3 separate regions of the Homo sapiens genome follow, and regions 1 and 3 are each linked to region 2. Evidence: fine-mapped QTL for protein levels in blood plasma. A gene starts in region 2. Each other region holds a variant in brackets. All regions are shown on one strand. Distances are from middle to middle. Region 1 has its middle 66 kb from the start of EPDR1. Region 2 holds the start of SFRP4 (secreted frizzled related protein 4). Region 3 overlaps EPDR1 (ependymin related 1).

Region 1 (2,764 bases), 70 kb after region 2:
TTTATTCTAAGTTCATATATTATTACTATTGAAAACAAAGACACAATAGATAAAGAGTATTGCATGAGCCCTGAATTGAAAACTATGCTTGGAAGACACTAACAGAACTATCAAGTCAGTTGAAGGAAAATATTTGCAGCCAGGCATTTCTTTCCCTGAAATAATATCTATGCCTTTTTAGTAGATGGCCTGAGGTGGCAAGGTAAGAGCTTCAGTTATTGTAAGTGAAAACCTCAGGATATGGCTGGGCATGGTAGCACATGCCTGTACGCTGTACTCAGGATGCTGAGGCAGGAGGATCTCTTGAGGCCAGGAGTTTGAAGCTATAATGCTCTACGATCACTCCTGTGAATAACCATGGCACTCCAGCCTGGGCAGCATAGTGGAGACTTCCATCTTAAAAAAAAAAAAAGGAAAATGTAAAAAAGTTCCAGATATGCTTAGAAGCAGATTTTTCAAATCCCATGGGGATGGGCTCAAAGAACAATATGATCAATAACCAGCTGACAATGATTAAAGCATCATCTTTGGAAGATGATAAGCTAAAGGTAAAGAATGTAAATCTTATTGCCTAAAACTCTTTGCAGTCAGCCAACTTAATTGAGTGTCTTTGAGAAAATTATTGTCTCATCTATCATATTGGTGCAATGAAAATAATACCTACATTGTACACATGTGGAATTTAAATAAGAAAATATTTTATATATCTACATAGCTCCTGGATATAGTACAAGTTTAAAACATTGTAGTTTATTATCAGGTTCCTGAGAGATGGCACCAATGGCAAAACGGTCACCAAAGCTATACCTTTAGAATTAGAGGATAATCCCAATTTTGTGGACAACATGTGGGTCTAAGCACCGTAGCATCTGTCAGCCTGTCCTGTCTCCTTTTTTAAAGAGCCAAATAGGAATTCTGTTGTGATTGAAGGACTTTCTATCCATCCCTGCAATCCTAGATGCTTTGGGATGCCTGCATAGAAGTTGTGCACTTTTTTCAAACACTGATGGAATAAAACAGTGTAATTACCTCTCTTTTTTTCACACCTAGCATAGAAGACTGATTTCAGGCTTTTTGAGGGGATTGGGTGGTGGTCCTCATCTGAGGATGAGGCTACATAAGTCATGGAAGACCTCGCCAATCCAGGTAGGGTACAACTCTAGGCCCTGTGTGGCTGGTCAAGGAGTCAGTCACTGGCTCA[T/A]CTCTGGCCTCCCAGGAAGCTGGAGTTGAAAAGGATCTCAGGGTGATCAGATAGAGAACTGCAGAAGGGGAGGGTCAAGCCAGCTTCTTTCAGATTTATTACAGTCCCCTAAAGCATTAATGACCTTTTTGCCTAAAGCTAATACAGGGAAACTTTTAGTTCATTGACCTTCAAATAATTACAGCTGTTTGGAAAGCTTTTGGTCATAGAAACTGGCAGTACTTCCAAACATTTCAAAGATGTCTATCATCTTAATAGCACCTGTCCTTTAACCCTGCACACACACTCCAAAAAGGTTAACTAAAAAATACAACGATTAATTTTATATTCTGATGTTTTCTTATGAGCACAGCTGTGGCCACTTTAGTGTCCAGCAAAGCATTTCTTTGGCGAGTGATTTAGGGAGGGGTGGAAAGTGGAATGGAAAAAATCTCTGGAAAGTCTTTAACACTGGGGCGTATTTTCTCCCTGTTTCACTCCAAGGAATTCCCACTCATGGAATCTGGCCTATCATAAAGAACTTTTTCCTTTTGTACTTGATTCAACTTAGTAAATGATGTCAACCAGCTATGGTGAATGATGAGTGTTCCTCAAACCACAGAACAATAGACTTCATCGTTGAAGCTCTAAAAGAGCAGGAATCTGTCTGTTCCACTTCCCTCCTGCTGGGCACCATCTTCTAGCTCAGCTGGAGCCTCTTGTTCATAATTCCTCCCCTAGAGCAAGTCCTTTTTTGCTGAACTCTAGGACACCCGGCATGCATTCCTCTTCAACTGCCTTTGTTGGCCTGAATGCTGAAACAACATCACTGAACTAACATCTCCTTAAGAAGACATTTGTCATCAAAGAGGCAAATCCTCAATGAGGACAACCCTACCTTTAAAAAATCATGTCTAAACCAGCAAAATTTAAAAGATTCAGAGCTTTTTTTAAAAATCTTTTTAAAGGTAGGTTTCAAAAAATCAATTTGCCCCACTAAATTCATGGTAACTGGCACAGGAGATGGCATGAGAATGAGAAGTATTCCTTTTAGCTATACCCACAATGGCCTGTGTTCTTGTCCTCCAATCGTATCACAAATTGTCAAATGTTGGTGCACCACTGCATCCCATATTTCACACATCTGATTTTGTCTTAAGTAATTATAGTTCCCAAAGCTCACAACTCTCTTTTTCTCAACTATATTTCTCCTGGAGTTTGTCTTCACACAAAGGTCTCTTCCCAGTTTTCTTCTTCTAATAACAGTGCACTTATTTTTTTCTCTCTGCTAGGCATACTGTCACCACATCTGACTTTGTTCTTTACAGCCACTCAGTCATGGCCCTTACAGTTTTGCTTCACTCCATATATACCATTTCATTTCCCTTCCCACTGCCACTCCCTAGAACAGGCAGTTCTGGCTTTTCACACTAATGAGGAACCACAGATATGACTGTGCAAACAGAAACTGGAATGTGATCTTGTTCATCGAAGGGGAAACTTACAATTGTTCTGGGACCTTTAAAAATATTTTGTTGAAACATTAAAAACTCCTTTGTTGTAGGTTATAAATGCACAGGAAAT
Region 2 (2,764 bases):
GACACCTAGCAACACCTGTTTACTGCTATTATCATTTCTGTTATTACTATAAATGCAAACATCATCGAAGGCTCCCTTTGTAAGCAAAATCTTTTTTTTTTTCTTTATGGGGTGCAGTGCTCTCCGCTAGCTCCTAAAATTCCTATGGGAGAAACCAGACTTTTTCTGAAGAAAATGTTTCCCCCATTCTTTCCCACCTCCTACAAGCCTCAGACGCCCCTGGCAGCCTTAGGTGTGGCCGCCCAGTTCTCGATTGGCAGCCACAGCCCCGGGCGCCTCCTCGCCTCCCTCCATCCTTCCTACGGCCTCACCCTCCGGGAGGTCCGTGACGATGGCTTCAGGCGAGATGCACACGCCACGGTCATAGACAGGCAGCTCGTCGCAGGCCAGGCTTTCGGGCCAGCTGTGGTTGTACATCTTCATGAGGGGCTCGCAGTCGTCGCGCGCGCGTTGGCACACCGACTTGCACGGCTTGATAGGGTCGTGCAGGAACTCCAGGGTGCAAATGGGCGCGTACATGGCACAGAGGAAGAAGCGCAGCACGGCGCTGCAGTTCACGTCCACCAGCTCCTCGTACTGCTCGATGGCCAGGATGGCGTTCTCCTGCGTGCTGTGGTGCAGGTGGTTGGGCATCCGCGTGATGTTCCAGGGCATGTGCCGGCACATAGGGATGCGCACCGCCTCGCAGGGCGCGCCGCGCACGCCCAGCGCCAGGTGCAGCCACAGGCACAGCGCCACTAGGATGGAGAGGAACATGGCACTGCCCTCTCGCGCTGCGACCCCGGCAGACAGAAAGCGCCCTTCTCTTCCTGCCACCCTCATCTTTCGCTGTCCCTTCGCCGAGGAAGAAATCCTCTGGGGCGCAGGAGAGTTTCTTCCCCCAAACTCCAGTCGGCAGCAAAGCGGGGCCGCGGGGTCCGGCCGCGGAGCTCCGCCGTCTGGCACACAGGGCACGAGCAGCGCCAGCTCTCAGCCTTCGGGGCGCGAACCCGCCCGGGCAGCTCCAGTCCCGGACTCCGCAGCTCGGAGCGCAGCCAGCCACGGCCATTGCGGGACCCTATTTATCCCGACACCTCCCCTGACGTGGGCTCGGAACGCTCCCTTGGCAGCTGCAGCCGCGGCGCGGGCTCCCCCTCGGCCGCCCCACCCCCAGGCCCGTCGGTGCAGAAGCGGTGACATCACCCCCTCTGGGCCGCAGCCCAGGGCTGGAAGCCTGCTTTCCCCCTAAAGTCCCTCCTTTTTAGTCTGGCCAGTCTTTTTTCTTCGGACCAAGAAAAAGAACCTCTGGCAGTTGTTTTCGACACCGGATACAAGAGGGTGCGGGAGAGAATTTCAAGAGAGAGAAAGACACTCTTTGGCTGAAAACTGAACTTTGCTCCCTCTGCCTTAGAGTTTTTCCAAGTATAGAGTTGGGGGAAAATAGGAGCTTCTGCTGCCCTCTAATTCTGAAATATATTTGCTTTCTCCGGTAGGGGGCATGAGGAGCGCTGAGGACAGTTGGGACAATGTCCTGCAAGGCAGGCGAGAGTGCAGTGAATGTCAGAACAGGAGGGTCACGTTGTATAAATCACTCCCACTCCGCCCTTAGTTGTGTGGAGTGTGGTTTGTTGTTGTTGTTGCTAGTAGACAGTTTGGGCCGAAATTTTTCCAGTATAACACTTGGTTTGTTTCTGCTCCAGGAAGTTAACAGAACTGGGGGAAGGTGTGCTAGCATCTTCCAGCTTCAGAAATGTCTTCTAACATTTCCTCTTCCTTCTAACTCCCTGTTCCCCTCTGCAGCATTAGTGGAACCCAGGAGAAAACATTGGGCACCACAATCTGAAAGGTCTCCCCTGCTCTGATCCTTCATGCCAAAGGATTTCCACCTCAGCAGCCTAAAATCTTGATTTTTGATGTGCTCAGAGACTGTTGCTTGAGTTGAGTAAGAAGCTGTGTACTATGGGATGCAAGTATGTATGTTTTGCTTTCTCTTTTATCTTACTTGCATTAGGAAAAGGTAGTCCAATTGCTGGCTCAGCTATCTACAGAAAAGGGAGGATTTATTTATATGAGATTGATGTATATCAATCTTCAGGTGGTAAGACTTCTGGTATATGCTATTTATTAGGGCATCAGCAATATGGAAACATGTTCTCTGAATGTTAATCTTTAAAAACATAGTTTAACTTGAATTTAAGGCACATGGTTTTTCTCTCCAAAGCTTAAACCTACACAATTAGTTTAGTTTTGACTGAGGATTAAAACTAAAGACTAAGGATTAAAACAGCTGAGGAAACAACAAGCACAAGTGACATCTATTGGGAATTTACAATGGTCAAGGTATGAAGCTAAGAACTTTAAATGCATTATCTTATTTTTTAGGGAACATGAATTAAACATAGTAAGTGAAAAGGATAAATGAGACAAATACATTTCAGGATTCATCCAAAGAGTCTGGTTCTTATTTAGGGGAAGCCCAGGGTGTTCTTACACTGCCAAGCCACTCTAGAAAGGTAATCTAGTTCCTATAGAACCAGTCTCCACCTCCAAAGATGCCAAGCCAGGCTAGTAAAATATCACATGAGGAGGAAAGCCCAGATGACATCTCAAGCCATTTCTAGCAGTAAACTCCAATGAGTCTAAACCCTTCACTGGGTGAAAAAGATTTTCAGCTGGAGTTCCTACCTGGGGAGCAAGAGAAAGAGCTGAACTACCCTACACTTTTCCTATGAATCTGAGCAGGGCAAACTCGGAGAGGGCTCAAATTTCTGCAGCCAGTTTGAAC
Region 3 (2,764 bases), 15 kb after region 2:
GTGCGGTGGCTCACGCTTGTAATCCCAGCACTTTGGGAGGCCGAGGCGGGTGGATCACCTGAGGTCAGGAGTTTGAGACCAGCCTGGCCACCATGGTGAAACCCCATCTCTACTAAAAATACAAAAATTAGCCAGGCATGGTGGCATGCGCCTGTAATCCCAGCTACCCAGGAGGCTGAGGCAGGAGAATTGCTGGAACCTGGGAGGCAGAGGCTGCAGTGACCTGAGATTGCGCCACTGCACTTCAGCCTGGGTGATAGAGCAAGACTCCATAAAAAAATAAATAAATAAAAAAAATAAAAAAAAGAGAAGTCTGACACCAAACTAAATTTGGTTTCGTTTCAATAATTTTTTTTCTGCCCATGTTTTTGTAGGTTGTTTCTATTATCCTTGAATTTTATTAACATCTCCAGGTAAGGTGTAGTTTTAGGGGAACTTTGTTTTTGTTTCACTTTGTTTTGTTTTTGTTTTTGTTTTTTGAGACAGAGTCTCACATTGTCACCCAGGCTGGAGTGAAGTGGCACAATCTCGGCTCACTGCAACCTCCACCTCCTGGGTTCAAGTGATTCTCCTGCCTTAGCCTCCCGAGTAGCTGGGACTACAGGTGCACACCACTGCACCCGCCTAATTTATTTATTTATTTATTTTTTGTAGTAGAGAAAGGGTTTCACTGTGTTAGCCAGGATGGTCTCGATCTCCTGACCTCGTGATCTGCCCACCTTGGCCTCCCAAAGTGCTGGGATTACACGCGTGAGCCACCGCGCCCGGTCGGGAACTTTCCTCTAGTATTTCTGGAGGTTTGATACTCTGCTTTTTTGTTGGTTCCTTACAGAATCTCTTTCTGCTTATCTGTTCTGGTTCTCTTACATTACATCTGTCTTCCAAATGTCTTCTTTGCTTTAGCCTTTTCATCACTTAATATGTTTTTTTCCCCTCTGAATTCTACAATAATACCCTCTAAGTCACTGCCTGTGAGGTGGTTTTTGTTGTTGTTGTTGTTTTTGCCATAGTCAATCTGCTTTACAAAGCCATGACTGCATTTTTAATTTCTAAATTTTTAAAATTTATTTACTCATTTATTTAGAGATGACATCTCACTATGTTGCCCAAGCTGGCCTCAAACTCCTGGGCTCAAGTGGCCTGCTTACCTCGGCCTCCCAAGTATCTGGGACCACAGGCCCTTGCTACTATTTTTTATTTTGATAATGATATTTTTCATCAGAAAGCTATCCTTGTGGTCACACATTATTCCTTTTCAATTGTAAACACAGTCTATCCCAAATCCCAGTGAAAATAAAAAATAAGATTTATATTTCAGAGTTTCATTAAATGTTAGCTGGAAGGGTTTGCGTGAGTTTATATTTCAACATGGTGGGAATTGATCTATTTCTGCTAAATGGCATCATGCTGACCCTGCACTGTCCTTCCCATCCTTCTTAGAGGACATCCCCTGCTATGTCGTTTTAGAAGCCACTGAGCACCATGGCAACCTGGATATCTCAGTACTAATGATGCTATTTCTTTTTGTGGTGGTGAAACAAAACTCAGCC[T/A]GCACTACTGTCTCATGAGAAATTTTTTATTATCTTTCATCAGATGAAAGAGTATTTGCCTACACATTGCCAATATTCATCCAGATATATTTTGGGAAAAAAAGCTCTTCAATTTCTCAAGCACTTTTTTCATCTTTTGAACTGGAATCCAAGTCATGGAGGCCCATCACCTTACAGCTTCTTAAATGGCAAACATAATTATTCTTTGATTTTGCTTTTCCTCAGGCTGCATTCTTAAGTAATTTAATTTTCCTTTTGTTATATGTGATTGGCAACAATGCGCACAATGAGTTTGTATCTAACACAATTTTGAAATAGTGTTTTTTCTTTTTTATGTCTCATAATCATTGCAGGGTGTAACTCAAACTTAGTATACGCCAGCATGGCAAGTGGCCGCGGCTCAATTCTTCCTCTTGAGAGTCAGATGGCCGGCATGCATTACTAATCTATTATAGTGCGTATTAAACAAATCCAAAGTTTGTTCAATTTTTTCCATAAAAGCCAAAGTCCTTTTGTAATCACAATATAATATTTGTCTACTCCCTTTTCTGTAATTTAATATATCTTGGATGGCTGAGCAGTTCTACATGGATGGGAAGAATCACTCCTTCCCCCTGTTGAGAGCGAGAAGGCACATGGTGTTTAAGAGTTAGAATGAGTCTGGTTGATCCCGTACTTAACTACGAAGTTATGCTGTGAGCCTCATATTTTCTCATCTGTTAAAAAAATAAAAATGCTAATAACATGTTCAACCAGCTGAATTTGCCAGTCTGTAACCTCTGCTTTGGATGTGTTCTTTTTTTCCTGACTACTCCAAATTGTGACAGAAAAACACTTGTCTCTTGACTGTTAAGGCAGTAGCTGCTCAGGTTCACCTATACCCAGGCCAAGCTCCGGTATTTGGGGTTCTAGGATTAGTCAAATATTTGGGCCCTGCTCATTCTGAGAGGGAAGGCTCTCATAGAGATTTTGTAATGAATTGAGTAGATGTTATCCATAAAGGAGTGGTTTTTATTCATTTCATTAAGGATATTTACAGCTATAAGTGTCAGAAAATCTGACTAGCAAATGCTAAAATATAAGAATATTCGTTGTTTACTCCAGAATTCTTGGGATACATGTTCCTAGGTCTGATTCAACAGTTTCATCAAGACCCCAGGCTTATCTGCATCCACTTATTCTGCCATTCTTTTTTTTTTTTTTTTTTGAGACGG

Evidence for each region. A credible set is the group of variants that fine-mapping cannot tell apart. PIP is the chance, under the fine-mapping model, that this variant and not a neighbour inherited with it causes the effect. The UK Biobank Pharma Proteomics Project read protein levels with antibody pairs (Olink). The fine-mapping took linkage between variants from a reference panel, not from the people measured, so its PIPs are less certain.
Region 1: its variant is the best candidate, but not a certain one, in a credible set for the plasma level of the SFRP4 protein (UK Biobank, PIP 0.67).
Region 3: its variant is the best candidate, but not a certain one, in a credible set for the plasma level of the SFRP4 protein (UK Biobank, PIP 0.51).

Annotation. Positions count from the first base shown.
Region 1 is chr7:37,985,353-37,988,116 of GRCh38, forward strand. No RefSeq gene overlaps it. Among named protein-coding and RNA genes, the nearest start is that of EPDR1, 66 kb to the left of the region's middle. RefSeq lists an enhancer at 1,534-2,286 and a silencer at 2,502-2,702. The variant T/A (reference allele first, on the strand shown) is at 1,202.
Region 2 is chr7:37,915,782-37,918,545 of GRCh38, forward strand. It overlaps SFRP4 (secreted frizzled related protein 4), which reads right to left and starts at 1,036. Exons shown (of 6, transcript NM_003014.4): 1 at 312-1,036. The coding sequence starts at 756.
Region 3 is chr7:37,931,238-37,934,001 of GRCh38, forward strand. The region is part of intron 1 of EPDR1 (ependymin related 1); the gene reads left to right. Among named protein-coding and RNA genes, the nearest start is that of EPDR1, 12 kb to the left of the region's middle. The variant T/A (reference allele first, on the strand shown) is at 1,551.